3 separate regions of the Homo sapiens genome follow, and all the other regions are linked to region 2. Evidence: fine-mapped expression QTL. A gene starts in region 2. Each other region holds a variant in brackets. All regions are shown on one strand. Distances are between the middles of the regions. Region 1 has its middle 70 kb from the start of LINC02195. Region 2 holds the start of LINC02195 (long intergenic non-protein coding RNA 2195). Region 3 overlaps HS3ST4 (heparan sulfate-glucosamine 3-sulfotransferase 4).

The links. PIP is the estimated chance that this variant, and not a neighbour inherited with it, causes the effect.
Region 1: its variant is fine-mapped to the expression of LINC02195 in unexposed skin (GTEx, PIP 0.98).
Region 3: its variant is fine-mapped to the expression of LINC02195 in fetal neocortex (Walker 2019, PIP 0.95).

What each region holds. Positions count from the first base shown.
Region 1 is chr16:26,660,244-26,670,436 of GRCh38, forward strand. No RefSeq gene overlaps it. Among named protein-coding and RNA genes, the nearest start is that of LINC02195, 70 kb to the left of the region's middle. The variant C/G (reference allele first, on the strand shown) is at 6,459.
Region 2 is chr16:26,591,230-26,601,422 of GRCh38, forward strand. It overlaps LINC02195 (long intergenic non-protein coding RNA 2195), which reads right to left and starts at 4,220. Exons shown (of 3, transcript XR_950950.3): 1 at 4,139-4,220; 2 at 3,508-3,703.
Region 3 is chr16:25,852,621-25,862,813 of GRCh38, forward strand. The region is part of intron 1 of HS3ST4 (heparan sulfate-glucosamine 3-sulfotransferase 4); the gene reads left to right. Among named protein-coding and RNA genes, the nearest start is that of HS3ST4, 170 kb to the left of the region's middle. RefSeq lists a silencer at 2,448-2,742. The variant C/T (reference allele first, on the strand shown) is at 5,935.

The DNA of each region.
Region 1 (10,193 bases), 69 kb after region 2:
CCCGGCCGAGATTATTCATTTTTAATCAACACTCCTGGTGGTGCATGTATAACTAGTTCCACCCCAGTGCACAGGCTAGAGTTTCTAAATCATCAAGGTGGCTAGTATGGTGGAATAGATGCTGAGTACACAACCTGAGCCTTGCTAGCAGGTGGTGGATTTATGTATCCTTCTTTCTCAGAGGAATGCGAATGGAGAAAAATAATTCTATCAAAAGGATGTCTCTTTGCGGGAGGCAGTGTAATATATTAGGAAGAGGGGGTACTTTGAAACTGAAGAAATAGAAGTTTGAATTCAGACTCAGTTACTCACTAGCTGAGTTGGGCACATTGTTTGGCCTCTCTGGCAAGTTCCATTTTCTGTTAAAAAGGCTAAATAATGTTACCCAATCCAGATTGCTGCCCTGAGGATTAAGTGAGCTGACACATACAACACACAAACGTGTGTACATGTGTACACACACCCACCACCACCACCACGACCACACCATACATTAACTTTCAGTCTTCCAGTGATGGAATCAGAACACAAGAATTTCATCATTAAAATGTTCCTTAAAACTATCACCTCCTCTGACTCTTATAATAGATATCTCTTCTTCAGCTATTTCAACAGATGATCACACAGTCTCTACTTGAATGCCTCCAATGCCAGGTGCCTCACTACTTGATAAAGCAGCCTAATTCTCCTGTTAGATCTCGTTATTAGAAAGTTCTTTTTAGGATGGACCAGGTTCTTCCTGCTTGTGGTTTCTACCACTTGTTCTCATTTCTGTCCTGGAGCCCTGAAGAATGAGAAAATCCCTTTCCACCTCACAATCTTTCTTGTTAACCAGACTTGCACTGGATAATCATAGCTTGGCAGTATATTATCTGCAGGGTGGTGTATCACACGATTGGATTCTTTCATGTGGACATTCTGCTTTGCTCCTAGATTTGGAACAGTATAGAAAAGTCATACATATAAGTACCTTTAGAAGTCAGCCAGATAATAGAAAAAACTGAGATCAGCTAACTAAGCTCAATGGCAAAATGAAGATTCAATGACCCCCTAAAAAGAAACAGCTTCCACTCCATTTTAACTCCTCTTTCTCCAGTTGAAATCTGGCCTACTATTGTTAGATATGGATTTTTTAAGAGGTACCCAAATTTCATAATTTTACTTTAAAATAAGACCTAAGTGGAAGAAATTTCCCTTGAGTCTCAGATGAGATTTTGGAATTTGGACTTTATATTGGAATGGGTTAAGACTCTGGGGGACTATTGAGAAGAGATGATTTTGCAATGTGAAAAGGACATTCCATCTGGGGGTCCAGGGATGGAACAATATGGTTTGGATATTTGTCCCTTCCAAATCTCATGTTGGAATGTGTATTCCTTTTTTTTCTTGTAGATTTGTTTAAGTTCTTTATCAATGCTGTTTATTAGACCATTGTCAGATGTATCGTTTGCAAATATTTTTTTCCCATTCTGTAGGTTGTCTGTTTACTCTGTTGATAGTTTCTTTTGCTGTGCAGAAGCTCTTTTGTTTAATTAGATTTCATTTGCCAATTTTGGGATTTTTTCTATTGCTTTTGGTTTCTTTGTCATGAAATCTTTGTCCATTCCTATGTCCAGAATGGTATTGCCTAGATTGTCTTCCAGAGTTTTTATAGTTTGGGGTTTTATACTTAAGTCTTTGACCCATCTTGAGTTGATTTTTGTATATAGTGTAAGGAAGGGATCCAGCTTCCATCTTCTGCATATGGCTAGCCAGTTATCCCAGAAACCATTTATGGAATAAGGAGTCCTTTTCCCATTGCTTCTTTTTGTCAGCTTTGTTGAAGACCAGATGGTTGTGGGCATGTGGCCTTATTTCTGGGTTTTCTATTCTGTTCCCTTGGTCTATGTGTCTGTTTTGTGTCAACACCATGGGGTTTTGGTTACTGTAGCCCTGTAGTGTAGTTTGAAGTCAGATAGTGTGAGGTTTGCTCTTTTTGTTTAGGATTGCCTTGGCTCTTCAGGCTCTTTTTTGGTTTCACATGAATTTTTAAATGGTTTTTTTTCTGGTTCTTTGAAGACTGTCATTGGTAGTTTTTTTTGTTTCTTTCTTTTTTCTTTTTTTTTTTTTTTTTTTGAGACGGAATCTTGCTCTGTCACCCAGGCTGGAATGCAGTGGCATGATCTCGGCTCACTGCAAGCTCCACCTCCTGGGTTCATGGCATTCTCCTGCTTCAGCCTGCCGAGTAGCTGGGACTACAGGTGCCCACCACCATGCCAAGCTAATTTTTTAATATTTTTTAGTAGAGACAGGGTTTCACCATGTTAGCCAGGATGGTCTTGATCTCCTGACCTCGTGATCCGCCCACCTCAGCCTCCCAAAGTACTGGGATTACAGGCATGAGCCACCACGCCTGGCCTGTCATTGGTAATTTAATAGAAATACCATTAAATCTATAAATTGTTTTGGGCAGTATGGCAGTTTTAATAATATTGAGTCTTCCTATTCATGAGCATGAAATGCTTTTCCATTTGTTTGGGTCATCTCTGATTTCTTGGAGAAGTGTTTTGTAATTCTCATTGTAGAAATCTTTCACCTCCTTGCTTAGCTGTATTCATAGGTATTTTATTTTTGTGGCAATTGTGAATAGAATTGTATTCCTGATTTGGGTCTCACAAAACAGACTAATACAGATGTCTTCCGCAACCATCTGATGGAGAGGACTGGTTGGATGCCGAAGACCAACAGATGGGCACCTTCTTCTTCTGCAGTTCAGACAGCCTGGAAGCTCCAGGCTAAAAGGACTACAAGGTCTCTCCACGTAAGGGCTGGCATCTCCTCAAATAAAAGACCCATGGAAATCAGCCCTGACTGGTCTCTCTTCCCCTGATCCTGCCATATTTCCTTAGCCTGCTCTTCCCTGTGTTGTGCTGAAAGGAATGGGGAAGAGCAGATTAAGCAGGTGGCTGACTTGAATTTTTCTCCTGGCCTGAAATTCTTGGCAGAGGCCAAGAAGAAAGTGACAGGTGAAAGTAGAAGTGAGTGAACCAGAGGCCTCAGCACATGCACATCTGTCCTGTTCATACCAAAGCCTGAGTCTCTGAAGGAGAGCAGGAAGAAAAAACTTGGCTAGGAGGTGTCTGCTTTGAGAATGTATTGGGTGGGGGTTGGAGGTGGCGACCCACATCATGTGAGCTATGGCACTTCACTCCAGTGAGGCCAACAGGCTTTGGTGGATACACATCAGGAGACAACCATAGCATTTGGAAAAGCTCCTTCTGTGTATGTCAGGACCAACGTGGGGGCCATTAAACAACTGCTTAAGAGGAAGGAAAGAAGAAAAGGGGAACTGGAAGGAAGGAGGGAAGGAAGGAAGGAAGGAAAGAAGGAAGGAAAAATGGGATGGAGGGACGGAGGAATGAAGATGGGGAGGGAGGGAAGGGAGAAGAAGGGAAGAATTCAGACACAGAGACAAACTTTCACCCCACAAATATTATTTAAATGCCTCCTATGGACCAAGTACTGTGTTAGGCATCAGGGACAGAGATGCTTACACTGAAGGCAGAGAAAGAGAACAATAAAATCCACAACTTTTCAGGTTGTGAAAAGTTCTTGGAAGTAAAAAAAAAAAAAAAAAAAAAAGAAAAAAAAAAGCAAGGTGCTGTGCTTTTGTGCTTTCATCGGATGGTTAGGAAGGACATTTCTCAGTGGGTGACATTGCAGGCTGGATGTGAACAAAGGGAGCGAGCCAGCTAAGCAAAGATCCCGGGATGGAGATTTCCAGGAGATGAGTGGCTTGTTCCAGGAACAGCCCAGGAACAGCAAAAGAGTTGGTGGCTGGGGAAGAAGTACAAGAAGCAGCAGGAAGCAAGATTATAAGATTTCCTGTGGCCTGAGCATGAGGAGGAGGCGGTGGAAGGTTCAGAACAGAGGAGGGACGTGATTTGATGGTACATTTTCAACAGGATCCCTCTGGCTGCCAGGTTGAGCAGAGGTGCAGCTGGACACACATGAAGCCCAGGGCTGTTAGGATGCCACTGCCCTCATCCAGATGGACACACACCAGCACCACCACTCATCAGCTCCTCACACTGAGCAAGACACTGTTTGGTTTGGTTTGGTTTGGCTAAGGACAGGGTCTCACCCTGTCACCCAGGCTGGAGTCCAGTGGTGCAATCATAGCGCACTGCAGCTTTGAACTCCTAGACTCAAGGGATCCTCCAGCCTCAGCCTCCTGAGTAGCTGGGACTACAGGTGCGTGCCACCATGCCCAGCTAATTTTTGTATTTTTAGTAGAGATGGGATTTCACCATGTTGGCCACGATGGTCTCGAACTCTTGACTCTGCCCCCTCTCGGCCTCCCAAAGTCCTGAGATTACAGGCGTGAGCCACCGCGCCTGGTCAAAACGTATATATTTTTTAAGAGACAGGTCTCGCTCAATCATCCAGGCTGGAGTACTGTGGCATAATTATAGTTCACTGCAGCCTCGAATTCCTGAGCTCAAGCGATCCTCCCACTTCAGCCTTCCAAAGTGCTGGGATTACAGGCGTGAGCCACCATGTCTGGCCATCAAGGCACAAGTTGATGGCATCTGAGAGATGTAGCAGCAACATGGTCAGCACTTGTGACCATGGACTTGGGTTTATCCTAGCGCTGTCTCCTCCAGCTAGACTGTGCTCCATGAGAACAGGGATCACATCTGTTTTTCTTGACAGATGTGCCCTCAGTATCCAGAAGAGCATCTGGCATAAAAATATGACCATGATTATGTAAAATGGTAGCATTAGCGGAAACTGGGTAATAAGTGTGTGGGAACTCTAATTATTTACATTATCTTGTAACTTTTCTTTCAAATAAAAACAATTAACAATAATGCTGGCAGACAAAAAAAAAAAAAAGTCAAAGTGGGTTCTAAAAAATGCAAACCTGGCTTGTTGCTTCTGTCATTCCTGAGCTTCACCCAAAGCTCCAGACCATATATCTGAGCTCTGCAATAAACATCTGCCATGTCTAAGTCGAGATAATGCCTCGCACCCGGCTTATGGAGAACTCCCTGACGTCACCCAACCTCCCTTGTTGGGTGCACCTGCCTGGGCAAGGCAATTGAAGGATTTTATTATAATAGCACTTTGCAGAGCTCACTCGACCCGTCAAAATAATTGTTTGACTTAATGTGAAATCTGAGCTCCACAGCTGCGTGAGTCTGTCCTCCCGGGGAACTCAGGCTGGCTGCTGCTGGTGCACATTTTAGCATCTCAAATTAACAGCAGTTTGGAAGTCTCCCTAATTAGTTACAGCACTGCTCGAGGTGTCATTTTATTTTTTTTTATTTTTATTTTTTATGAGCCCAATAACATATTGCCATTTAAGTTTCTGGAAGACAGGGAGCTATAAATAAATAAAATTATAATTTGCTTGAAGTCTATCACACAGATATACTAAGTTCAGAAGTAAGTTTTAATTTGACTAATGAGATGAAACTTTTCTCTGCAGAGTGTGGGCTGTGGGTATGACTGTTGCTCAGAGGGTGGCATGCCTCAAAACGCCTGGGAGACAGCGCAGCCCAGAGACAAAGAAGAAAGCTGATCTACTCCACGGAATTCACGCCTGGGGTCTCATAACCAGGACTCACATTCAGATCTTGGTTCTGCTGCTTCTTAGCCAGAAGTCCACAGGCCTATCCCCTCCTCTTCTTCAGCTTCAGTCTCCTCTTATATCCAAGGAGGAGGAAAGTGCCTATGCTTCTCTCAGAGGTTTGTGTGAACATCTTACATATGTGAAAACAGCCCATACCAGAAATCCAGTGGTGTGGTACAGTGGTTAAGGAATTCTACATAGAAGCCAGACTGCTTGAGTTCAAATCCTGCCCTATTTATTACCTAGCTGTGTCAATTCAGGCAAATTACTTAGTCTCTCTATGTCTCACTTCCTTCACCTCTTAAAAACTATATAAGCCACCAGGCACAGTTGCTCACACCTGTAATCCCAGCACTTTGGGAGGCCAAGGCAGGTGGATTGCGAGGTCAGGAGTTCGAGACCAGCCTGGCCAACATGGTGAAACCCTGTCTCTATTAAAAATACCAAAATTAGCCGGGTATGGTGGCTCACGCCTGTAATCCCAGCTACTCGGGAGGCTGAGGTAGGAGAATTGCTTGACCCCGGGAAGCAGAGGTTGCAGTGAGCCGAGATGGTGCCACTGCACTCCAGCCTGGGCGACAGAGCGACACTCCATCTCAAAAACAAACAAACAAAACTACATAAGCTTCTTGAGTAAATTAATGAATATATCCAAATTGCATAGAATTTACAAAGACCTCCTAACAAACTCTATAATTCTTATCTACAGCATGTATGTTCGACAGGGAGCAAAGAAACCTCAGATATTACAGTGGTTTTTGTGCCCCAGATATTACAATGGTGTGTGGGCCTCCAAAAAGCCACATTATACAAACAGTGTTTTGGGAGTGTTAAAATCTAA[C/G]AGGAAGGAGGCTGTTAGGGGAAAGGTTGAGAGTCACTAAAGCAGTAATCTGTAGTCATCACTATAATTTTAACTGTGTAAAGTGCATCACGAATGTCCCTTGTCTGATTTCAACTGCTGTGATATAAGGCTCTGGGGTCAGATGGGCCTACATTTAAATCCACCCTTCTCCTTACTAGCTGTGTGATCCTGGCTAGTCACTACACTTCTCTGTTCCTGAGTTTTTGTATCCGTAAAATGGAGCTAATAAAGTTGTCGTAAGGATGAAAAAAAATAATGCACGCTAAGTGCTTAGGACAATGCCTGCCAACCTATAAGCACTCAATATAAGCGGCTATTATTAAGATTATTTTCATCATTATTTTATCAAGCACTTAGCACACACTGGGCACGGGATAAATGATGGCTCAGGAGTGCTTCCAAACAGACTCCTGGCTGGCAGGTTCTCAGGCTCTTCCTCGCTTTCTCTAATGATTGCAGGGAAATGCTGCTGTTTGCTATGCAAATATTTTACTGTGACTCTGTAATCATAATATCACACTACCAAGTGGACTGCGACAAGACCAACACTCCGATGTGGGAACTTTGCAGTTGCTTGTTGATTCCTGGCAGATCCGTGGGAGCTGCAGGAGCAGCCAGCCGGCTTCTTGCTGCCCGGGCACATTTCAGGAGACGATGTCTTATTAGCACTGCCCTGCACGGGGGCTTCCTCTTACACAGTCAATTACTGCTCAGCTGTGATGCCGTAAAGAAAGGGCCCACTTTTAAATAATCAATATGGAATTAAAGTGATTGAAAAGTGCATCTCTCCACTCCAGGGTTCCCACAGAGCAGAAGGAATTCTCAATTTGTGCTCAGCGGGGAGCCATTGAAGAATCGAGCGCAGCCGAGACCTACCCCTCCGCATCCAGAGGCCAAGACCCGTGTCCTGACCCCTGCCACCTACAGGGCCATCTTGGCTGCTTGCAAACTCTTCAGGGTTCATCTGGGATGTTCCTTTTTCCTGCTCAAAATGGCTTCTCCAGATCAAATCTAAATCCCTTGTGTTGCCGATGAAATCCTTTTTTTTAAATTTTTTTTGTTTTTGTTTTTTAGAGATGGAATCTCACTCTGTCACCCAGGCTGGAGGGTAAGGGTGCAGTTATAGCTCACTGCAGCTTCGACCGCCTGGGCTCAAGTGATCCTCCCACCTTTGCTTCCTGAGTACCTGGGGCTACAAGTAGACACCACCATGTAGCTGGCCTAAGTCCAGCTGCTCACTGCTCAGAGGCTGAAAATATGAGAAACCAGGTACAGTGAAAAGAAAGCAACATTATTAATCAAATGCCAGCAGATGGGAGATAACCAGACTTCTACCTCAAAGAAGACATCTCAGTCTTTTGGGCTGAGTGAAGGGGTTTAACAAGGAAAAGGCGTGGGAAACCCATCAGAGTGGTACAAGAGGGCGGAGGTCTACATGTCTTGTTTCCACGTGTTATCTTGAGGAATCAACCATCTGGAGGTCTGGTTTGCATTATCCTGACTCCAACCCGGAAGTCGTGGGCTAACTTTAACTCCCCATAAGAGGGAGAATTCTGCAGCGGGGTCTCTCTGCCTCCTTTGTTGCAAAATTGGCCCCTGGAATTTCTAAGCAAGCACATAATTAGATAAGTGAGCACTGTTCACGGAAGTGCCTGGTGGGAAAGGCAGAAACAAAGAGTTTCAAAGTATGTTTCGAGGCTGCAAGCAAAAAAGAAAAACAAAAAAGTTTTAAAATGCATTTTGAGGCTGGGATACTCGGTGACAACCATGCACAGCTAATTTTTTTACTCTTTTATAGAGACAAGTAGAATCCAGTTTTCTCGGGGTCTTGGGAAGTCCTAAACACAGCCTCCAGTTGGTCATGCAGAGTAGATGTGGGGACATTGCAGGCAGGCATCCCAGCTTAGTTCTTCCAACCCACTCAGTCTGCCAAGGACAGATATGGAGGGGTGACCTGCCAGCCTAGCTGTCCAAGACCATGGGGAAGCATCTACATTGGAGTCAAGTCTTTAAACCCATTGTGGAGCATTCACCAGGAGTCACTGCTGTCTGGAGAGTGAAATTCCTGTTTGTAGACAGCAGCCTCCTTGGGCAGAATCAGGGTTCAAGTCTAGATCTCAACCAGGTCCTCTGTTTTGCAGTGTATTAGTTTGCCATGGCTGCCATAACAAAATACCACGTCTAGACTGGTTGACTTAACCAAGAGAAATTTACTTTCTCACATTCCTGGATGCAAGAAGTCCAAGGTCAAGGTGCCAGCATGTTTAGTTGCTTCTGAAGCCTGTCTCATTGGCTAGAAGATGCCCACCATTTCAATGTCTTCACATGGTCTTTGCTCTGTGTGCACACATTATGGATGTCTCTGTGTGTGTCCAAATTGCATCTTCTTAAAAAGACACTAGTTAGGTTGGATTAAAGCCCACCCTAGGCCAGGTGCAGTGGCTCACACCTGTAATCCCAGCACTTTGGGAGGCCAAGGCGGGCAGATCACGAGATCAGGAGATCGAGGCCATCCTGGCCAACATGGTGAAATCCCATCTCTACTAAAAATACAAAAATTAGCTGGGTGTGGTGGTGTACGCCTGTAATCCCAGCTACTCTGGAGGCTGAGCCAGGAGAATGGCTTGAAACCGGGAGGCAGAGATTGCAGTGAGCCGAGATCGTGCCACTGCACTCCAGCCTGATGACAGAGCGAGACTCCATCTAAAAAAAAAAAAAAAAGACTTCATCTCCAAATACAGTCACATTCTGAGGTACTGGAGTTAGGGCTTAAACATATACATTTTGGGGAAATGCAATTCAACCCATAACACTCTGCCCTCTGGACTCCCGAAATTCACATCCTTCTCACTTGCAAAATACATTCACCCTCATCCCCACACCCTACAAGTCTTGACCCGTGCTGGCATGAACTCTAAGTTCCAAATCTTATCTAAATCTCATCTAAATCAGATGTGGCTGAGACTCAAGGTGTGATTCATTCTGAGGCAGAACTCCTCTCCAGCTGTGAACCTATTCTTTTTCATTTTTATTTTAGATTTGGTGGGTACATGTGCAGGTGTGTCACAAGGGTATGTTGCATGATGCTAAGGTTTGGGCTTCCATTGATCCCGTCACCCAGAGAGTGAGAATAGTATCCAATAGTTATTTTTGTTTTGTTATTTTGTTTGTTTGTTGTTGTTGTTGTTTTTGAGACAGAGTCTCGCTCTGTCCTCCAGGCTGGAGTACAGTGGCACGATCTCGGCTCACTGCAACCTCCACCCCCCCAGGGTCAAGTGATTTTTGTGCCTCAGCCTCCTGAGTAGCTGGGATTACAAGTGTGAGCCACCATGTCCAGCCCCAATAGGTAGTTTTTCAGCCCTTTCCCCACTTCCTCCTTCCATTTTTGGGGGGTCCCTAATGTCTATTGTTCCCTAGCTTTATGTCCATGTGTACCCAAGGTATAGCTCCCACTCATAAGTGAAAACATGTGGTATTCAATTTTCTGTTTCTGCATTAATTCGCTTAGAATAATGACCTCCAGTTGCATTCATGTTGCTGAAAAAGACATGATTTTGTTCTTTTTATGGCTGTATATTACTCCATGGTGTATATGTACCACATTTTATTTATCCAACCCACCACTGATGTGAACTTAGGTTGAGTCCATGTCTTTCTATTGTGAACGGCCCAGCTGTGAACCTATTAAACAAAAAAGTGATCTGCTTCCAAAAT
Region 2 (10,193 bases):
TACTTAAGAGGCTGAGGCACGAGAATCTCTTGAACCTGAGAGGTGGAGGTTGCAGTGAGCCGAGATCGTGCCACTGCACTCCAGCCTGGGCAACAGAGTGAGACTCTGTCTCAAATCATCATCATCATCATCATCATCATCATCATCATCATCATAGGGGAAACTGGGTATGTGGTATATGAGACCTCTTATGCTATCAATTATTTCTGTAACTCTAAAACTATTCTAAAATAAAAAGGTTATTCAAGAACAAATGTAGATACTTGGAAGATTTTTTTAACGTGAACTGGATGTTAAATAATATTAGAGCATAGGTATTATTAGATGGGAAAAATCTGTTGAGTTATAAGGATAATGCCCTTACTTTTTGGCAATTTGTGCTGTAAGTATTTAAGGATAAAGTGGCTTGGTATATGAACTTACTTTAAAATGATTCAGCCCAACTCCTGGGGAATGACTGTCTGTGAAAACCTATTAGGTTAAAAGCTGTCAGGGACTTTACAATGGGTAGATTAAATGATGCAACACCGGAACCTACTTAATATCACAAAAGGAGACAACCAGACATTATGACCCTCCTAATGGAACCACACGGACGCTGCTTATAAAATACTCTGGCCCAAAATCAGATGTGGATCTGATGAAGGCTCAATAGCTAAATCCCAGTTTACAGGAGATAAAAGGAAAGGAATAACATGTTAAATAGCACCAAAAGTCTAACTCTGCAAAATTTCAAAAGTGGGGAAATTGTACAGGAGAAACAATGCAGATTTTTCAACAAATATATTGCACTAGGGGAAACAAAATAATAACAAACAGAAAAACAAGAAGACAAAACCCAGGGACTTAAACAATTATCAACCAAATTCACTGTGGAGATTTTTGTTTTAATCCCCATTATAAGACAGCAATTATAAAAACAAAAGAGAGAGAGAGAGGGAGAGGAAGAGCAGGAATCAAGAAATTTACACACTGACTAGGTATTTGGTGATATTCAGAAAGTGTTCATTATTTCAGATGTGAAAGTGACATTATGATTATATAAATAAATAAATAAATAAATAAATAAATATATATATATATATATATATATATATATAGAGAGAGAGAGAGAGAGAGAGAGAGAGAGAGAGAGAGAGAGAGAGAGAGAGAGAAAGACGGAGTCTCGCTCTGTCCCCCAGGCTGGAGTGCAGTGGCTGGAACTCGGCTTACTGCAAGCTCCGCCTCCCTGGTTCATGCCATTCTCCTGCCTCCAATTAGCTGGAACTACAGGCACCCGCCACCATGCTTGGCTAATTTTTTGTATTTTTAGTAGAGATGAGGTTTCACTGTGTTAGCCAGGATGGTCTTGATCTCCTGACCTCCTGATCTGCCCTCCTCAGCCTCCCAGAGTGCTGGAATTACAGGCGTGAGTCACCACGCCTGGTCATGATTGTATTTTTAAAAGAGTCCTTATCGTTCAGAGAGACAGACTGAAATATTTACAGATAAATATCTGGGATTTGCTTCAGAAAGAATCCAGAGCTGGGGAAGAATAGGCATGGAATGACTGAGAGAACAAATGAAATGAGATTGTCCACACATTGAAGATATTGAAGCTGGAATGGATCCACTTTACCAGTCTCTCTGCTTTAATATATAGTTGATATTTTACAAAATAAAATGCTTAAACAATGGCTAAGCAAATAAAAATATGGGCCAAATAAAAGCTAAACATTAAAAAGTTGTTGAATCCAGTTGTTCAATTATAGGTATACCATATTCAATAGTACTATCCTTTCTAATTTTCTGCATGTTTGATAATTTTCATAAAATATTAAAATGAATGACTGCATGACTGAATAAATAAAATAATGCAAAATTCAGGAAAGCAGCATCCTGCAGAGAGAAGGGGCAAGATGGAATTAGAAAGAAACACACAAAGCTACTAAGCTATAGCTAAAATTATATTTCTTATAAACGATGGTGAACTCACAGATGTTCATTTTATTAATGGCTCATAAACTATGAATGCATGCTCTATTCAACTTTATGTATGACACAAAAAGAAATGACAAGAGTCATCTTTTTTTTAAGGTTATAGATGCTTTGAGATCCTCTCTGCAAAATCTTTGCCTTGGCACTTGGCTCCTGGGGAGTCTCATTTATGTGTCCCACCATAAATCATGGCTAGCTTAGAGACTAGAAGTGGGAACTGACCACATCTCTACCTGCTTTCCTGGAAGAAGATGAAGCAGAGTTATCAGCCGTGGGAGTCAAAGAGAACTAACTAAAGAAAGGAATAAATATCACAGACATGTCAAACTCCAGTTTGTGATTTGTCCTTCCTTCTTTTCTTTCTTCCTTCCTCCCCTTTCCCTCTTTTTCTCTTTCTCTCCTCTTTCTTCTAAGATGAAGTTAAATTTTAAAAGTCTCCACTAGCTTTCCATCCTCCTAAGAGAAAAGGTTCAACCCTTATTCATTTCGAGGTATTTGACAAGAACAAGGCTTTCATATAAAGTGTTAAAATAACCTGCGAGCAGGGTAGCCCCTCTTGGGGTGCTTAAGTAGAAACGATTTGACCCAGAGAATGTGACCCACCAGGAGGTTGAAGTAGGTCAGCCATAGAGGAGACAGCAAGGGACAGAGAGACACAGGACGTCAGAGAGCCAGATAGCTCTGTCTCACGATATAAATGAGTGCCTGCCAGAATGACGTTTCTTTAGGCTTGCTGTGTGACTTCTGACCAGTAACTACTCCTCTCTAAGCAGCAATTTTCACTCCAGTAAAATGGACTTAGTCAGTGGCTGCCAACTGCAGGGGCCAGGTAGAGAAAGTAAAGGAGCAAAGTGAGCTAGGGCTGGGGGTGAGGGAGGGAAGGGGTCTGAACTAGAGAACAGTATGTGCACCTGATCTAACTGAAAGTCAGGACTCAGCTCCAGGTGGGAATGAAGCCCCCCCTTTTAGTCAGAGCACCCATTTCTTTCTGAACAACATGAAAGTCTGATATTTGAAAGTGCAGTCTCCCTATTTTCAAATGCTGACAATAAATTCAATCTAAAAAGGAAAGAGAAGCAACAATCAAAGAAAAAGCAACCATAAACCCATTGTGCAGCTCCGAACTAAAGTTATCTGGGAGTTGAAGGTGGGATAGTATCTTCAAATACCATCTAATACAGAGATTAGATCTCTGTATTAGATGGTATCTGAAGAACCTCTGAAGTGTTAACAGTCTATGTTAAAAGTCTGACTTAGGGGTTAGGAAGATATACTTCAGATTCAGAAAGAACTGTGTTCAAGCCCATTTCAAGCTCTTTCTCTTTCTGCATCTGTGATATTGGGCAAGTTTCTTAACCTCTCTTAGTTTCAGCATCCTCCCCTGATATTGTGCATCTGCAAGTTCAGAATGAGAAACCCCCAGCCCTAGCTCACTTTGCACAAAATGTAACCCCCCGTGCCTACCACAGTCCTCAATAAATGACAATCATCATAATTCTCTACCTTCACCAGTATATGATAGCTGCATACTTTTACATCCGGATGACTCGAAGCAAATAAATAATTGGATGAACTTCTGGTTGCTTGGGTTTCCCAGGAACACAGCAGGAAATTCCACTGGGGAAGCATCAGACAAGACACCGATGACGCAGAAAGGCTTCATGTCAGCCACTGCAGGCAACGGGCTGCTCTTGAGTTCATCTCCTGGATCTCTAAGTCTGGGGACCTTGTGGGTAAAAAATGAAACTGATGCCCACAACTAAACTAAGATTAAATCAAAAGCAATTCAATATTTTATTTTGAAAGCTGTGTTTTAAGTATTTCTTTCTTGTGTAGTAATTTTAGATTTATCAAATGGCTTTAAAGATAGTTCGGGAGGTTCCTATATACCCTCGCCAAGTTTTCCCAGTTAAAAAAATTTTTAAGGAGAAACGATTTGACCCAGAGAATTTTACTTGAGATGGGATCTCACTATGTTGCCCAGGCTGGTCTCTAACTCCTGAGCTCAAGTATTCCTCCCACCTCAGCCACCCAAAGTGCTGGGATTTGTTAACACAAACTAAATATGGACTCTGTACTTCTATATTTGAGTCCTTGTGGACAAACTGCAACCTAACTTAATAGGTAGACAAAATTGAAAACCGAACATAGGAGTACACACCTGTAACAACAGCTGAGTCGTGGCCAATCCCAGGAGCTATACTTCAACCACTCATACACCGATGAGTGTTGAAGCTGTGTTCAAATGAGGCAAACGCCAACCTGTAACCAATCCAGCTGTTCTGTACCTCACTTCTGATTTGTGTACATCATTTCCCCCCACTTTCTTTTTTTGAGACAGAGTCTTGCTCTGTTTCCCAGGCTGGAGTGTAGTGGCATGATCTCTGCTCACTGCAAGCTCTGCCTCCCGGGTTCACGCCATTCTCCTGCCTCAGCCTCCTGAGTAGCTGGGACTACAGGCGCCTGCCACAACGCCCGGCTGATTTTTTGTATTTTTAGTAGATGTGTGGTTTCACCGTGTTAGCCAGGATGGTCTCGATCTCCTGACCTCTTGATCCACCCGCCTCAGCCTCCCAAAGTGCTGGGATTAGAGGCGTGAGCCACCGCGCCTGGCCCTCTTTTTTTGTCTATAAATCTTCCACTACATGGCTGTGCTGGAGTCTCTTTGAATCAGCTGTGATTCTGGGGGATATCCGATCCCTGAATCGTTCATTGCTCAACTAAACTCCTTTACATTCAATTTGCCTGAAGTTTTTCTTTTTTTTTTTTTCCTTCAGATCGAGTCTCACACTGTCGCCTGGGCTAGAGTGCAATGGCATGATCTCAGCTCACTGCAACCTCCGCCTCCCAGTTCAAGCAATTCTCCTGCCTCAGCTCCCGAGTAGCTGGGATTACAGGTGTCCACAACCATGCCTGGCTAATTTTTTATATTTTCAGTAGAGACGAGATTTCACCATGTTGGCCAGGCTGGAGTGCAAAGGTCAGGTCTCAAACTACTGACCTCAGGTGATCCGCCCACCTTGGCCTCCCAAAGTGCTGGGATTACAGGCGTGGGCCACAGCACTTGGCTGAAGTTTTTCCTTTATCAGATGACAGGCATGAGCCAGTAGTTTTGCCCAGCCATTTTCTCCTCTTGTTAACATCTCACATAACCTGAGTAAATTTGTCACAACTGAAAAACCAACATTCTTACATTATTATTAACTAAATTCTGGACTTAATTACAATTTCATCTGTCTTTCCATGTATGTCCTCTTTCTGTTCCACCATCTGATCCAAGGTATCACATTGCATTTAGTTGTAGCATCTCCCCAGTCTCCTCTGATGTGTCCATTTCTCAGTCTTTCCTTGGTTTTCATGACCCTGGAAGTCCTAGTGGGGATACTGGCCAGGTATTTTGTAGAATGTCCTCCACTCTGGGTTTCTCTGGTGGACTTCTCATGAGTAGACTGGAGTTTGGGTTTGGGGGAAGAACACCACAAAACTGAAGCATCTTCCTCTTCACATCTTTTTTTTTTTTTTTTTTTTTTTTTTTTTTTTTTTTTTAAGACGGAGTCTCGCTCTGTCGCCCAGGCCGGACTGCGGACTGCAGTGGCGCAATCTCGGCTCACTGCAAGCTCCGCTTCCCGGGTTCACGCCATTCTCCTGCCTCAGCCTCCCGAGTAGCTGGGACTACAGGCGCCCGCCACCGCGCCCGGCTAATTTTTTGTATTTTTTTTTAGTAGAGACGGGGTTTCACCTTGTTAGCCAGGATGGTCTCGATCTCCTGACCTCATGATCCACCCGCCTCGGCCTCCCAAAGTGCTGGGATTACAGGCGTGAGCCACCGCGCCCGGCCCCTCTTCACATCTTATCCAAGGCTGCATGAGAGCCACCAGGCTTCCTCAGTGAGGTTGGCATTCATCACTTGGGTAGCATTTGCCAGGTTTCGCCACTTGCTTTTTTTTTTTTTATTTTGAGATGGGATCTCACTCTGTCACCCAGGCTGGAGTGCAATGGTGCTATCTCGGCTCACTGCAACCTCCACCTCCCAGGTTCAAGCGATTCTCCTGCCTCAGCCTCCTGAGTAGCTGGGATTACAGGCATGTGCAACCACGCCTGGCTAATTTTTGTATTTTTAGTAGAGACTGGGTTTCACCATGTTGATCAGGCTGGTCTCCAACTCCTGACCTGTGACCCACCCACCTCGGCCTCCCAAAGTGCTGGGATTACAGGCGTGAGCCACCATGCCCAGCCTCCACTTTCTAATTAGTGTATTTTCCCTTCTCATACTTTATTCTTTGGAAGCAAACCACTAAGTCAAGCCCACTTTTTGTGGGACGTGGGAGGTGATGAGGAAGATTAAGTAGCTCCTCCCAGAGTGGGAGTGCCTACACATATTAAATGTAAGCAGCAACTGGCCGGATGCTGGGGCTCATGCCTGCAATCCCAGCATTTGGGGAAGCTTTGGAAGGATTGCTCAAGGCCAGGAGTTTGAGACCTGTCTGGGCAACATAATGAGACCCCATCTCTACTAAAAAAATTTAAAATTATCTGGGCATGGTGACATGTGACTGTCATCCCAGCTACTCAGGAGGCTGAGGCAGGAGGATTGCTTGAGCCCAGGAGTTGGACGCTGCAGTGAGCCATGATTGTGCCACTGCACTCTAGTCTGGGTGACACTGCAAGACCCTGCCTCAAAAAATAAATAAATAAATATATATATATATATACACACACACACACACACACATATATATATAATGATCTTTCATTCTTGTGTGGTACTGTACCCCTACTTTACAAAAGTGGAAATGGAGGCCCAGCAAGGTTAAATGACTTGCCCACAGTGGCTACATTTATAGATAACAACGCTTAGGTTCAAACCTCCATCTCTCTGCCCGCAAAGCCCATCTTCTTAGTCCTGCATGGGATGCCAGACTCCACCAGCACTGCCTCCGCCCCTCTGCCTCTGGTTATCTCCACAGGAAACCATGAGTCTTTGATGATCTCATCTTTGCCATCTCCTTCAGGTCTGAAATGGTTGGTTTCTACCATCTATGGCATGAGTTAAATCACTGACGTAGAAGAACAACCTGGCCCAGTCTTTCTCAGAATTGCTGTGCCCTCGTGGTCACCAAAACTGAGTCAGGAGTGAGTCATACTTATTTCCAGGTACTGGTGAAATCTTGTGGGGGCAACTGTCATCACAGCCTCTTAACAGCTCAGCAAGGTGCAAACTTACTTACGCAAGCCTCTGGCACTCTAGAAAGTAAAATGCACAAGAAAGGATAGAAACACTTGTTTTTTTTACTACCTGGAATTCAGAAAAACAGCCGTGTTTTTCTAGACTCTTGACTTTCCAATGGAGGCACATTTATAACTCATTACTTTTCACAATACTCTACATTGAAAATACATCTACTGATCAGGACTCTATGATAACCTGGGGTTAAAAATCCAACGTAAGTTGACTGTAGCAAGAAACATAAGGTAGCATTCAGTTCATTTAAGTGAAAAGTCTAGTTTAGTTGTTACAGGAATGGCTTGACCCTGGAACTCAAAAAAACATTGTTAGAATTCTTCCTTCTTATTTGTAAATTTCTACTCTTCTGTGTTGGCATCAGTCTCAGACACCCTTTCTCCAAGGTGACATGGCATCTTCCAGCTGCTCTAGGCTTAGAGCTTTTCAGCACAAAAGTATCAGTAGAAAAATAAATGTCTCTGTGCTAATTGTTCTAGCAAAAGTTTCAGTTCTAACTCTGATTGGCCATAAGTGTGGTCATGAACTATATCAATTATCTACTGCCACAGAAAGAGTGAGCAACAAAGCCTCAGTGGTATATAAAAATAAATGTGTTCCTCATGCAGCTGGGGTCATTGGGGGCCCACTGGTGGCTTTGCTGATCTTGGATGGTCTTGCTCACATACCTGGGAGTTGGTTGGCTACCGGTTGAGGAGACTGGAGTGAGTTGGCTCTGCTCCACACGTTTTTCCTTCTCCAGCAGGCATGTTCCCATGGTGAATGCATAACTGTAACAGATCCATTGCCAGATGTGTTCTGCAAGTCAACACCCCAAGACACCAGGTTGCAGCAGAGAAAGAGGTTTAATCGTAGGCTACCAAACAACAAGATAGGAGGAAACCTCAAGTCCATTTCTGAGGGATTTGGGGTAAGCGTTTTTAAGGGTTTTGGAGTAGGCTAAAATGTGGAGCTCATTGATTGGTCAAAGAGTACAGGGCGAAGTCATTGGACAGGGGGATGAAAGAAGCTGTATTCATGTGTCGATTTGGTTCCTCCCTGGGAATCTTCGAACTGGTGGGCTTCAGCTATTCCACTGGAATTCAGGACCTGAAAAACATCTAAAGTGATCTTTAAACAAAAGCCTTATGATTCTAATGCCAGAGATCCTGTCTATAGGAACAATGGGTATGCAAATCAATTCTTAAACAGCCTGTGACTCTCATGTCAGAGATCCTGTCTATAGGAATGATAGGAATGCAATGGTCAGTATCTAGTGCTGTGACTTTAATAACAAGGAAATGGGTAAGAGTGCAGCCTAATGAATGCTGAATTATATTTCTCTCCAGAACCCAGCATGCAATTTTTGTCACTCCTATGGAGATGGTAGGGATGATATCAATAGCAAAGCACAACAGTAGCCAGTGGAAACTCACCAGGCAGGTCTCAGCACCACAGTGACTCACCCCCACTTCCACTGCATCTGATTGGCAACTCCAGTGTCAAGGATGGAGAAACGGGCTTCCTCCTTTTTAGTGAGAGGAATGCAACAGCATGCATGCGGGGAGCAGGGTGAAGAATTAATGTCACAGATGCAATCCATCTCACCCACTAGCCCTTACAGAATGAAAGTGAGGCAGACATGAGCTGTGTGCCCTCCTGAGTTGGGATATGAGAAGTAATTTTTTTTTTTTTTTTTTTTGAGATGGACTCTTGCTCTTTCATCCAGGCTGGAGTGCAGTGGCACAATCTTGGTTCACTGCAACCTCTGCCACCTGGGTTCAAGCCATTCTTCTGTCTCAGCCTCCTGAGTAACTTGGATTACAGGTGCGTGCCACCACACCTGGCTAATTTTTGTATTTTTAGTAGAGGTGGGGTTTCACCATGTTGATCAGGCTGGTCTCAAACTCCTGACCTTGTGATCCACCCGCCTCAGCCTCTCAAAGTGCTGAGATTACAGGCGTGAGCCACCGTGCCTGGCCAAGAAGTGACTTCTTGTGGGAGGATGAGTGGAGTAGGGTTGTTTCCCCAGAGGAATACTGTAGGGGCAAATCCAGCAGAAGTACACTGCAGTATCCCTAAACTGAAGTTCAGATGTGGAAACAGACTCAACCAAGACCCGTGATTTTGGGGGTCACAATCAGAAGCTGTCCACATTGTGGGCCAGGTGCAGTGGCTCACGCCTATAATCCGGCACTTTGGGAGGCCCAGGTGGGTGGATGCCCTGAGGTCAGGAGTTCAAGACCAGCCTGGCCAACATGGTGAAACCTCATCTCTACTAAAAACACAAAAATCAGCTGGGTACAGTGGCACACCCCTGTAATCCCAGGTACTCGGGAGCCTGAGGCAGGAGAATTGCTTGAACCTGGGAAGCGGAGAGGTTGCAGTGAGCTGAGACTGCACAATTGCACTCTCCAGCCTGAGCAACAAGAGCAAACTCCATCTCAAAGAAAAAAAAGAAAGAAAGAAAGAAAGAAAGAAAGAAAGAAAGAAAGAAAGAAAGAAAGAAAGAAAGAAAGAAAGAAAGAAAGAAAGAAGGAAAGCAAGCAAGCAAGCAAGCAAGCAAGAAAGAAAGCAAGAAAGAAAGCAAGCAAGAAAGCAAGCAAGCAAGAAAGCAAGAAAGCAAGCAAGCAAGCTATCCAGGTTGTTTTTGCAGCCTAGACCTGTCTTCTACCAAAGCCAATTCGTTTGATGTCTCATCTTACTTTCTCTTGAGAATCTTTCACTCCTACAAACACTTTGGCTTTGACATTTTTTTTTACTCCACTTGGGCACCCTATTAAAGTGAAACTGTCTTACTTGCCTTTTATGTATGATTTTATTTTGTCACCAAAAAAAAACTTTTTACTAAAGCTGATGCATCCATTATAAATTATTTGCTATTATTCTTAAAAGGCACTCTTTAGCTTAATGCATCTCATCATGTTAATGCTTTATAAAACTGACTTGATTTTAAATGGGAACTAGGAAGCCTTGTTGTCAGGAAGTTGCAAAG
Region 3 (10,193 bases), 740 kb before region 2:
TTTCAATCCTATTTCTGTCATATAGGATGGAAAAAATTTCTCCTAGATTGTTACTTGTCTCTAGCTTCCTTTGCAGAATCTTTTGTCAAACAGAAGTTTTAAATTAATTACATGAAATCAAGCAGTATTTCCCTTGATTATTTTGTTTCATGCTTCATATTTCATCATTCTAAGATTATAAAGGTATTATCCTATATTCTTCTTTAATCATTTTGAATTTTTAACGTTGAAGTTTTTAATTCATCTCCAGTTTAATTTTGTGTGTGCAATGTGAAGGATGAATCTTGTACTATTTAAAAATTTCCAAATGTATACTCAGTTGTGTCAGCCCCAGTTTTTAAAGTTAGTTCCACCAGTCTTCTCTGATTTTCTGTTTCTTAACAATTCCCTCCTGTCCTGCTCTTGCCTCAACACTTGTAAAATTACTTTAGCTGATTAACCTGTTTTCCCCAGCGTTATTATCAATGTATAGATCTTTCACCTCCTTGGTTAAATTCTACCTTAGTATTTTACCTTATAAAATGCTTTTGTAAATGAAATTGTTTTCTTAATTTCTTTTTAAGAGAGTTGTTCATGTAAAGAAATGCAACTGATTTTCGTATGTTTATTTCATATCCCGCAACTTTACTGTATTTTTTCATTAGTTCTGACAGATTTTTGGTGAAATCTTTGTGAGTGTGTGTGTGTGTGTGTATATATATATATATATATTCCTCTGCAAACAGAGACAATTTAACTTCTTTTTTTTCCAATTTGGATGCGTTTAATTTCTTTCTTTCTCTGGCATAATTTCTCTTGCTGGGATTTCTAGTATTATGCTGAATAAAAGTAGCAAGAGTGGCATCCTTATTTTGTTCCTGATTTTGGAGGGAAGGCTTTAAGCTTTTCACTGTTGAGTTTGAGGTTAGTTGTGTACTTGTCATATATGACCTTTAGTATGTGAAGGTACATTTCTTCTATACCTATATTGTTGAAAGTTTTTATCATGAAAGGATGTAGAGTTTTATGCAATGCTTTTTTCTGCCCTTGCATTTTGTTAATATGATGTATCACATTTATTGATTTGCATACATTGAACCATCCCAGGGGTAAATCCCACTTCATCATGGTTTATAATTCTTTTAATTTGCTGCAGGAATTGGTTTGCTAGGATTTTTGCATTGATGTTCATTAGAAATATTGGCCTGTAATTTTCTTTTCTTGCAGTATTCTTGTCTGGCTTTTGTATCAGGGTGGTGCTAGTCTTGTAAAAATGAGTTTAGAAGTGTTCCCTCCTCTTCAAGTTCTTGAAAAAGTGTGAGAAGGATTTATGTTAATTCTTCTTGAAATGTTAGTAGAATTCACCAGTGTAGCTAACTTATCATTGTTGAGAGGTATTTGATTACTGATTTGATCTCCCTATTTGATATTGGTCTATTGAGATTTTCTATTTCTTTATGATTCAGGCTTTGTAGGTTGTATGGATTTCTTTTTTGTCCATCTGTTTAGCCACTCCATGTCTTTTTTTTTTGAGACAGGGTCTTTGTTGCCAAGGTTGGAGTGCAGTGGCACAATGATAGCTCACTGCAGTGGCATAATGATAGCTCACTGACTGAGCCTCCCGAGTAGCTGGGACGACAGGCACTTACCAACAAGCGTGGCTACTTCCTGGAACTGAGGGTTCCTTTCCTTTTTAGACCATATAGAGTAACTTCCTGACATTGTCATGGCATTTGTAAACTGTCATCGTGCCAGTGGGAGTGACTTTAAGCATGCTAATGAATTGTAATTAGCATATAATGAGCAGTGAGGATGACCCGAGGTCACTTTCATCACCATCTTGGTTTTGGTGAGTTTTGGTTGCCTTCTGTATTGCCATCTGTTTTATCAGCAAGGTCTTTGTGACCTGTATCCTGTGCCGACCTCCTATCTCATCCTGTGACTTAGAATGCCTAACCTCCTGGGAATGCAGCCCAGTAGGTCTCAGCCTTATGTAACCAGCCCATCTACAAGACAGAGTTGCTCTGGTTCAAACGCCTCTGACATTTTTGCCTCTCCTGTTGACTTTAAATTTCCTTAAATACTCTTTCTCAGAAAGAGACTACTTCTTGTGGCTCTTTCCGTTATAATCCACTGTTATTTTACTGGAGCCCTTGGTGTGGTGGTAAGGGAGGCGAGGTGTTTGTTGACAAAAAAAAAAAAAGAAAATGCAAACTGTAAAATATTTAAAGAGGTTTATTCTGAGCCAATATGAGTGAAAGTTTACAAATTTGTGTTGGGCCACATTCAAAGCCATCCTGGGCTGTCAGTTGGCCTGGGGAACAATCTCAGGAGGTCCTCAGAAAATGTGTCCGAGGTGGTTGAGTTACAGCTTGGCTTTATATATTTTGGGGAGATAGAAATACAGGTAAAGACATAAATCAATACATGTAAGGTACACATTTGCTCAGTCTGGGAAGGTGGGATCTCTCAAATGGGTCAAAAGGGTGGTGGGGAACCAATAGGTCATAGGAGGATTTCAAACGTTTTTTGATTGATGGGTGGATTGAAAGATTTTCTGATTGGCAGTTGGTTGAAAGAGTTAAGCTAGGACTTGAAGATGGTAGAAAAAAATTCTTGAGTTCAGAAAAGGGGGATGGGTGTGGAAGTCAAAGTTCTTGTTATGTAGATGAAGCCCCCACATAGCAGACTTCAGAGAGAATAGGTGGTAAATGTCTCCTTTTGGACTTTAAAGGTGTCAGACTCTTAGGTAATTTCTCCTAGATTTAGGAAAGGCCTGGCTGCATTAATAGAGATTCTCTACAAATGCAAATTTTCTCCCATAAAGATGGCTTTGCAGGGCCATTTCAAAATATGTCAAAGAAATATGTTTTAGAGTAAAATATTTTGATTTCCTTCAGAGTTTGCTATCTGTTATGTGATGCTATACCAGAGTCAGATTGGAATTTGGTATCTTATTGGCAAGGAGTCTGTTTTGTCAGTCTTATAATCACTATTTTAATGTTAGTGCTGGTCAGTTGTGACTAAACTCCGAAAGGCAAGAGGAGTGTAACAAGTTATGTCTGACCTCCCTTCCCATAATGTCTTGGAATTTAGTTTTTCAGGTTACTCTGGGCTGCTCTTCACCAAGGGGCTGTGTGTGTTTGTGTGTGTATGTTTAGTCGTTTGTGGGGGCTTAGTATTTTATTTTTGGTTTTCACTTTCTTTAATCTTATAGTTAAGTTTCAGTCCTTTAGTGGGCTTGACTGCCTGGGCTGAGAGCTTAGTAGTGTTTTTTTAAACTTTCTTCCCTCCCTTAGGTGGGACAGAAAGGATAGAGGGGCCTGGAATGAGAGAATGCCCTTTCCCCAGCTGGATAAGGCTCTGGTAAAGTCTTATTCCCTGGAGAGTAGCCCTTTGTTATGGAGAATGCTCTGGGCATACCTGGGTGTTTTCCACCCTGGATAGGTCTGTTCTCTCCAATTCCCCACCAGAGCCACAAGGGACCTTCCTCTGCTTTTCACGGGGAAAAGCTAGTAGAGTTTCTGGACGTAAAGCTGACTAAATTGTGGTGGATGCCCTGTGGTATAATAAAAATATAAATATTTGGTCTGTGTTTTGGCACAGAACTCCTAAAACCTTTGGAATTTACTGTCTTTTGTATGCTAATGAGATTACTCCAGGCAGGGGGCTCCTAGATAGCTTCAAGACTGGGGTCACCAGAAAGATTAAGCTATGATTAGGAGGCTGAACTTTCATCCCCACCCTCCAACCTTCAGGGAGGGGAAAGGGGCTGGGAGACTGAGTTCAGTCACTAGTGGACAATGATTTCATCAGTTATGCCTGCATTAAGAAACCTGCATAACAAAATCCCTAAATGATAGTGGGGTTTGGGGAGCTTTTGGGTTGGTGACATATTAATGTGCCAGGAGAATGCTATGTCCAGAGAGGACATGGAAGCTTTACACCAGCGGTGTCCAATCTTTTGACTTCCTGGGCCACAATGGAAGAAGAAGAATTGTCTTGGGCCATACATAAAATACACTAACACTAACAACAGATAATGAGCTAAAAAAAATCACACAAAGAAATCTCAAAATGTTTTAAGAATGTTTATGAATTTGTGTTGGGCTGCATTCAAAGCAGTCCTGAACCATGGGTTGGACAAGCTTGCTCTATGCCATCTTTCAACCCCCATGCCTTACCTAATGCTACTCTTCCATTTGGCTATTCCTGAGTCGTATTCTTTAAAATAAACTAGTAATATTAAGTAAAGTGCCTTCCTGAGTTCTGTGAGCCATTCTAGCTAGCAAATGATCAAGCCTGAGGGGTGGTCATGGGAACTCCTGAATTCATAGTTGGGTGGGCAGGAATGTGGGTAAACTTGACACCACATTTGCAGCCAGCATCCGAAGTAGGACACAGTTTTGTTGGACTTGACCTGTTGGGTCTGTGCTTTGAGTAGTTGGTGTCAGAATTGAATTGTGTTGTTAAACACCCAGTTGATGTCAGAGAATCAGAGACTCCCTAAGTCTGGGGGCCTTAGGAGTTGCTCACTCTCATGTTAGTCCACAGTAGTTCTTCTTTTAAATGATAATTTGTCAGAATTACCATTTAAGTGTTCCTATCAGTGTATGCCTCCAGGAGCTTCTTCTCCAGGTGGGTAGATCTTGACTCTTAACTCTCTGGATTCATCAACTGTCTCTCCTAATTATAAGGTGGCAGTTTGCCTTGTGGCTTCAGCTCTCTGAAGGATCTAAGAAAAGACATTGATTATCAGTTTGTTCAACTTTTCTGTTGTTGGAAGGATGGGAGTGATGGGTTGTCTAAGGTCTTTACATGCTGTAACTGAAACCTTACATTGTTTGAATGAGCCCTATGTGGTCATGATATATTTTTCTTTTATACACTTCTGCGTATGATTGGCTTATAGTTTGCTTCTGTGTCCCTAAGTGAGACGAGGCTGTAGTTTTTTACTGGGGTGTTTATCGTGTTTGTACAGGGATTCACAGAAAGAACTGAGACGCTTTCTAGCTTTTTAGTTTTAGGGCTTTCTATTGTGTCTTAAAGGTTTGACAGGACTATCTGTCAAATGCCTGGGTTGGTATCATTTTTTTAATTTACGCCTTGTTGGTATTTTTACTTTTTACACTTATGAATACATATAACACACACATATACGTGCATACTCAAACATACACATATATAATTCTACATAGAAGTACTCATAGCGTGAAAGCATTTTGTCCTGGAATCCTTAATTTGTCATAGATTCCTTAATTTACATGAATTTCTTTCTCTTTCTTTCTTTCTTTTTCTTTCTTCCTTCCTTCCTTCCTTCCTTTCTTTCTTTCTTTCTTTCTTTCTTTCTTTCTTTCTTTCTTTCTTTCTTTCTCTTTTCTGTCTTTCTTTTTCTTCCTTCTTTTCTTTCTGTCTTTTTCTTTCTTTCCTCTTTCTCTTTCTTCTTTCTCTTTCTTTCTTTCGTTCTTTTTCTCTCTCTCGCTTTTTTCTTTCTCTGTTTCATTCCTTCTTTCTTTTTTGCTAAACTCTTTCCTTCATGTTCCCTTCCAACTCATTCCCCAAACTCCACTTTATAATCAATGCTTACAGGTCAGTGTTACTTTCTGCAGCCTTCTCTACACTTATAAAATTATACAAACTTGCATGCACATATATAATTTCACACACACATCTTTCACTCGTTCATAGAAATATTTATTCTGATTATTATTTTGTAAAAATCAGAATACACATGCATGTACTCTGCTGTGTCCTGCTTTTCTTATTATCAATACATTCTGTAAATTGTTTCAAATTAGCTGATAAAGATCTAGCTCACTTTTCAAAGGTGTAATTTTCTGTGGTAGGGCATTCACTTTGTCTCCTCCTTAATTTTTCTTTTACAAATGATTCTGCATTAACAAAGTTAACACATATCCTATGGTACTGGTCCTTTTATTTCTATTTGATAAACTC[C/T]GAAGAGTGGGATTTCTGAGTTGCAATGTATGCTTTTTTTTAATTTTAGTAGCTATTTCCAAATTGCTTTCACTGATACTTCATTTTGAGTAGGTTTTTGACAGCATTTCCAATATTTTCAATGGTTATTTGTCTACTCATGCTTTCTACCTCTTCTTGAGTCAATTTCAGTAAGTTATATTTTCTCAGGAAGTCATTCACTTGGAATGGATTTTCAAAATTAGTGGTATAAATTTTACATAGAGTTCTTTTATAATTTTAAAAATTTTCCCCCATCTCTGTGGAGCTCTGAACACTTTGTATGTGTCCTTCCTTTTTTTATCTGGTTTCTCTGAGTGTAATTTCCCAATTCTTTAACTCGAGAATACACCAGAAACCTGCAACTTTTTGTCTTTCTTTAGTTTGGGTTTGGAACTCAAACCTACTCTTTCCTCTGCAGCAGTCATTTCCTGTAATGTGGGGGTTACTCCAACATCCCTCCCACCCCACACGTCCTTGGGTTTTTATGAATTTATTATTTAAAAGTGCTTTTTTGGTAATTTCTTGGAATTTTGGAGGGAGAAAGCAGACACTTGTTCTAAAAATCACATATGAATTCAGTCCTCTCTGTATTTCTAATGGACTAGCATTTTTAAGAAAAGGTATGTTTGGCAAGACAGAAAATAAAAATACAATGAGCTTCTTGGAAAATTTCTGAAGCAGACAGCAGCAAACGGAAATTAAATGAGCACACACTACATCAGGCTATTTCACACATATTATCTTATTTAATTCTCATAGCTGTACTATGAGTTTACTATAGCATCATGCCATCAGCTATAGCTGAGCAAACCAAGGCACTGAGAGGTAAGTAATTCACCTAATAAGTGCAGGGCCAGAACTTAAAATCAGTTTTCTTGATGTGCCCTACAACATATGTGCTTTCCTGTAGACAGCTAAGTTATTTTATTTATCCAGTAACATTTCATCAACCTGTGAAATAACAAGACTAAATTACATAGTCTGTGCTGAGAATATCTGCCCTCATGGCTGCCCGTAGTATTTTGAGCATCCTGTCTTGATAGTATTCCATGGTATAAATCTTGCCTTATCTGGATAGAATTAAAAAGAAAAAGCAAAAACAAACAAGCACAAAACAGGGTCAAAGACCTTAAAAGACACCTCACCAAAGAAAATATACAGATGGCCAATAAGTGGATGGAACAGATGTTCCCCATCATATGTCATTCAGGAATCTGGGAAATGCAGATTAAAACAATGAGATATCACTACACACCTATTAGCAGGGGTCCCTGACTCCCAGGCCATGGACCAGTAGGAGTCTGTGGCCTGTTAGGATCCAGCCGCACAGTGGAAGGTGAGTGGCAGATAAGGGAGATTTACCACCTGAGCTTCACCTCCTGTCAGATCAGCAGCGACATTAGATTCTCATAGGAGCACAGACCCTATTGTGTGTGAACTGTGCATGCGAGGGATCTAGGTTGTGAGCTCCTTATGAGAATCTAATTGACCTGAGGTGGAACAGTTTCATCCCGAAACCATCCTCCTACCCCATTCCTGGAAAAATTGTCTTTCACGAAACCAATCCCTGGTGCCAAAAAGGGTTGAGACCCCTGCTATTAGAATGACCAAAATCCAAAACACTGACAACACCAAATGCTGGTGAGGATGTGGAGCAATAGGAACTCTCATTCATTGCTGGTGGGAATGCAAATAGTACAGCCACTTTGGAAGACAGTTTGGCAGTTTCTTATAAAACTAAATATACTCTTACCATATGATGCAGCCATCATGCTCCTTGGTATTTACCCGAAGGAGAAGAAAACTTATGTCCACACAAAAACCTGCACATGAGTGTTTATAACAGCTTTATTCATAGTTGCCAAAGCTTGGAAGCAACCAGTATGCCCTTCAGTAGTTTTGGATACACAGTTTATGGATACATAAACTGTGGTACATCCAGAGAATGGACTATTATTCAGTGCTGAAAAGAAACAAGCCATTGAGCCATGAAAAGATATGAAGGAACCTTAAATGCATATTACTAAGTGAAGGAAGCCTATCTAAGGCTACATACTCTGTGATCTGACTGCATGACATTCTGGATATGGCAAAACTATAGAGATAGTAAAATGATCAGTGGTGGCCAAGGTCTGGGGATAGGGAGGGTTGAATAGGTGGAGCACAGGGTATTTTTAGGGCCATGAAATTACTCTGTATGATACTACGATGGTGGATACATGGCATTATAAATTTGCCCAGACCCGTAGGACATACAACACCAAGAATGAACTCCAATGTAAACTATGGACTTTGGGTGATAACGATGTGTCAGTGTAGGTTTATCCATTATAATAAATGCACCATGCTGCTGGGGGATGCTGATAATGAGGGAGGCTGTATGTGGAGGGGGACGGGGAGGATATGGGAAATCCCTGTTCCTTCCTCTTAATTTTGCTGTGAACCTAAAACTCCTATAAAGAAAAGTAAAGTCTTAAAAACAAACAAATACACAGCAACAATCTTATTTTCCCCAGCCTGTCTTATGTTAGGGTGCAGATGTGATTTCTGTGTGGCTAATCAGATGCCCTTGTGTGAGAGACTGATTTGAACAGAGGCAGGGGCATCCATCTTCCTAGTGTCAGTCACAGCAGAAGCAGTGAGGTCCTGGTGTCTGTCGCTGCAGTGGTGGCTTTTGATACAGGAGTTCCCTGATGGCAGTAGCTTCTTTGTGGGTTCAGTTCTGTTGTGTGGTTCTGCAAGTTCAGCTTAGAGTCTGTTTCTTCAGCTGTTTCAATGACCCTCTGAGCTGTCTACCATGAAAAATTCTATCCTGCTTACACTAATTAGAGCCAATCCTGTTATTTACAAATGAATATCCTGACCAGTAATGAAGGTCTAGACTTAACTGTAATATTTTATGACTTAAATCGTTGGCATATGTGAAAACTTTTTGTTTATTCTAAACTTTTTTGTTGTTGTTGTAAAATAAAACATTTATGAAAAGCGCACCAAAAAGGATAACAAATGAGAGTAATGCAACATACAGGCACCAGCAACTCAGGCCAGGGAGATGATATATGAGCATCCCCAATCTCCCCTTTACACTCCCTCAAATAACTCAATCAAGACCACAGTTCCTTCCCTTTCTCTCAGGAAAAACAAAAACCATCTAAACTTATTGTAATATATTTCCTGCTTTTCTTTGTAATTTTACCACTTATCCTCCCTTAACAGTAGGGCTTAGTTTTGTTAGTTTTTGAAATTTACATGAGCAAAGTTATACTGTAACTTTATGCATGATTTTATGTCTTGCTCATTTCACTCAACGTTGTGTTTGTAAGCATCACTAATTTTTGGGCATAGCTATAGTTTGTTCATTTTCCATGTCATGTAGCAGCAGTCCCCAACCATTTTGGCACTAGGGATGGGTTTCTCTTGTGGAAGACAGTTTTTCCATGGATGGAATGGGGTAGGGGAAGGTGGTTCCAGAATAAAACTGTTCCGTTCCACCTCAAATCATCAGGCTTTAGATTCTCATAAGGAGCACACAACCTAGATCCCTTGTATGCACAGTTGATTCTCCTATGAGAATTTTATTTATTTACATATTTATTTATTTATTTATTTATTTATTTATTTATTTATTTATTTTTAAGACAGAGCCTCACTCTGTTGCCCAGGCTAGAGTGCAGTGATGCCATCTCAGCTCACTGCATCCTCCACCTCTCAGGTTCAAGCTATTCTCCAGCCTCAGCCTCCTGAGTAACTGGGATTACAGGCACATGCCTCCATGCCTGGCTAATTTTTGTAGTTTTAGTAGAAACGGGGTTTCACTATATAGCCCAGGCTGGTCTCGAACTCTTGACCTCAAGTGATCCACCTGCCTGGGTCTCCCAAAGTGTTGGGATTACAGGCGTGAGCCACCTCACCCAGCCTTCCTATGAGAATGTAATGCCGATGCTGATATGACAGGAGACGGAGCCCAGGCCAGTAATGCTCGCTCGTGCTCACTTCCTGCTGTGTGGCGAGGTCCCTAACAGTCTGCAAACAGTTATTGGTCCCTGGCCTGAGGGTTGGGAACCCCTGTCGTACAGTAAGTATTCCGCTATTTAACGATACCGTTTAGTACTTACAGACATTTGCATTATTTCCAGTTTATGACAATTATGAGTGATGTAGCTATGAATATTCTTGTACCTTTATTTGGTGCATGTGCACATGACTTTCTCTCTTACAGAAGTGAAAATGTCGCATCA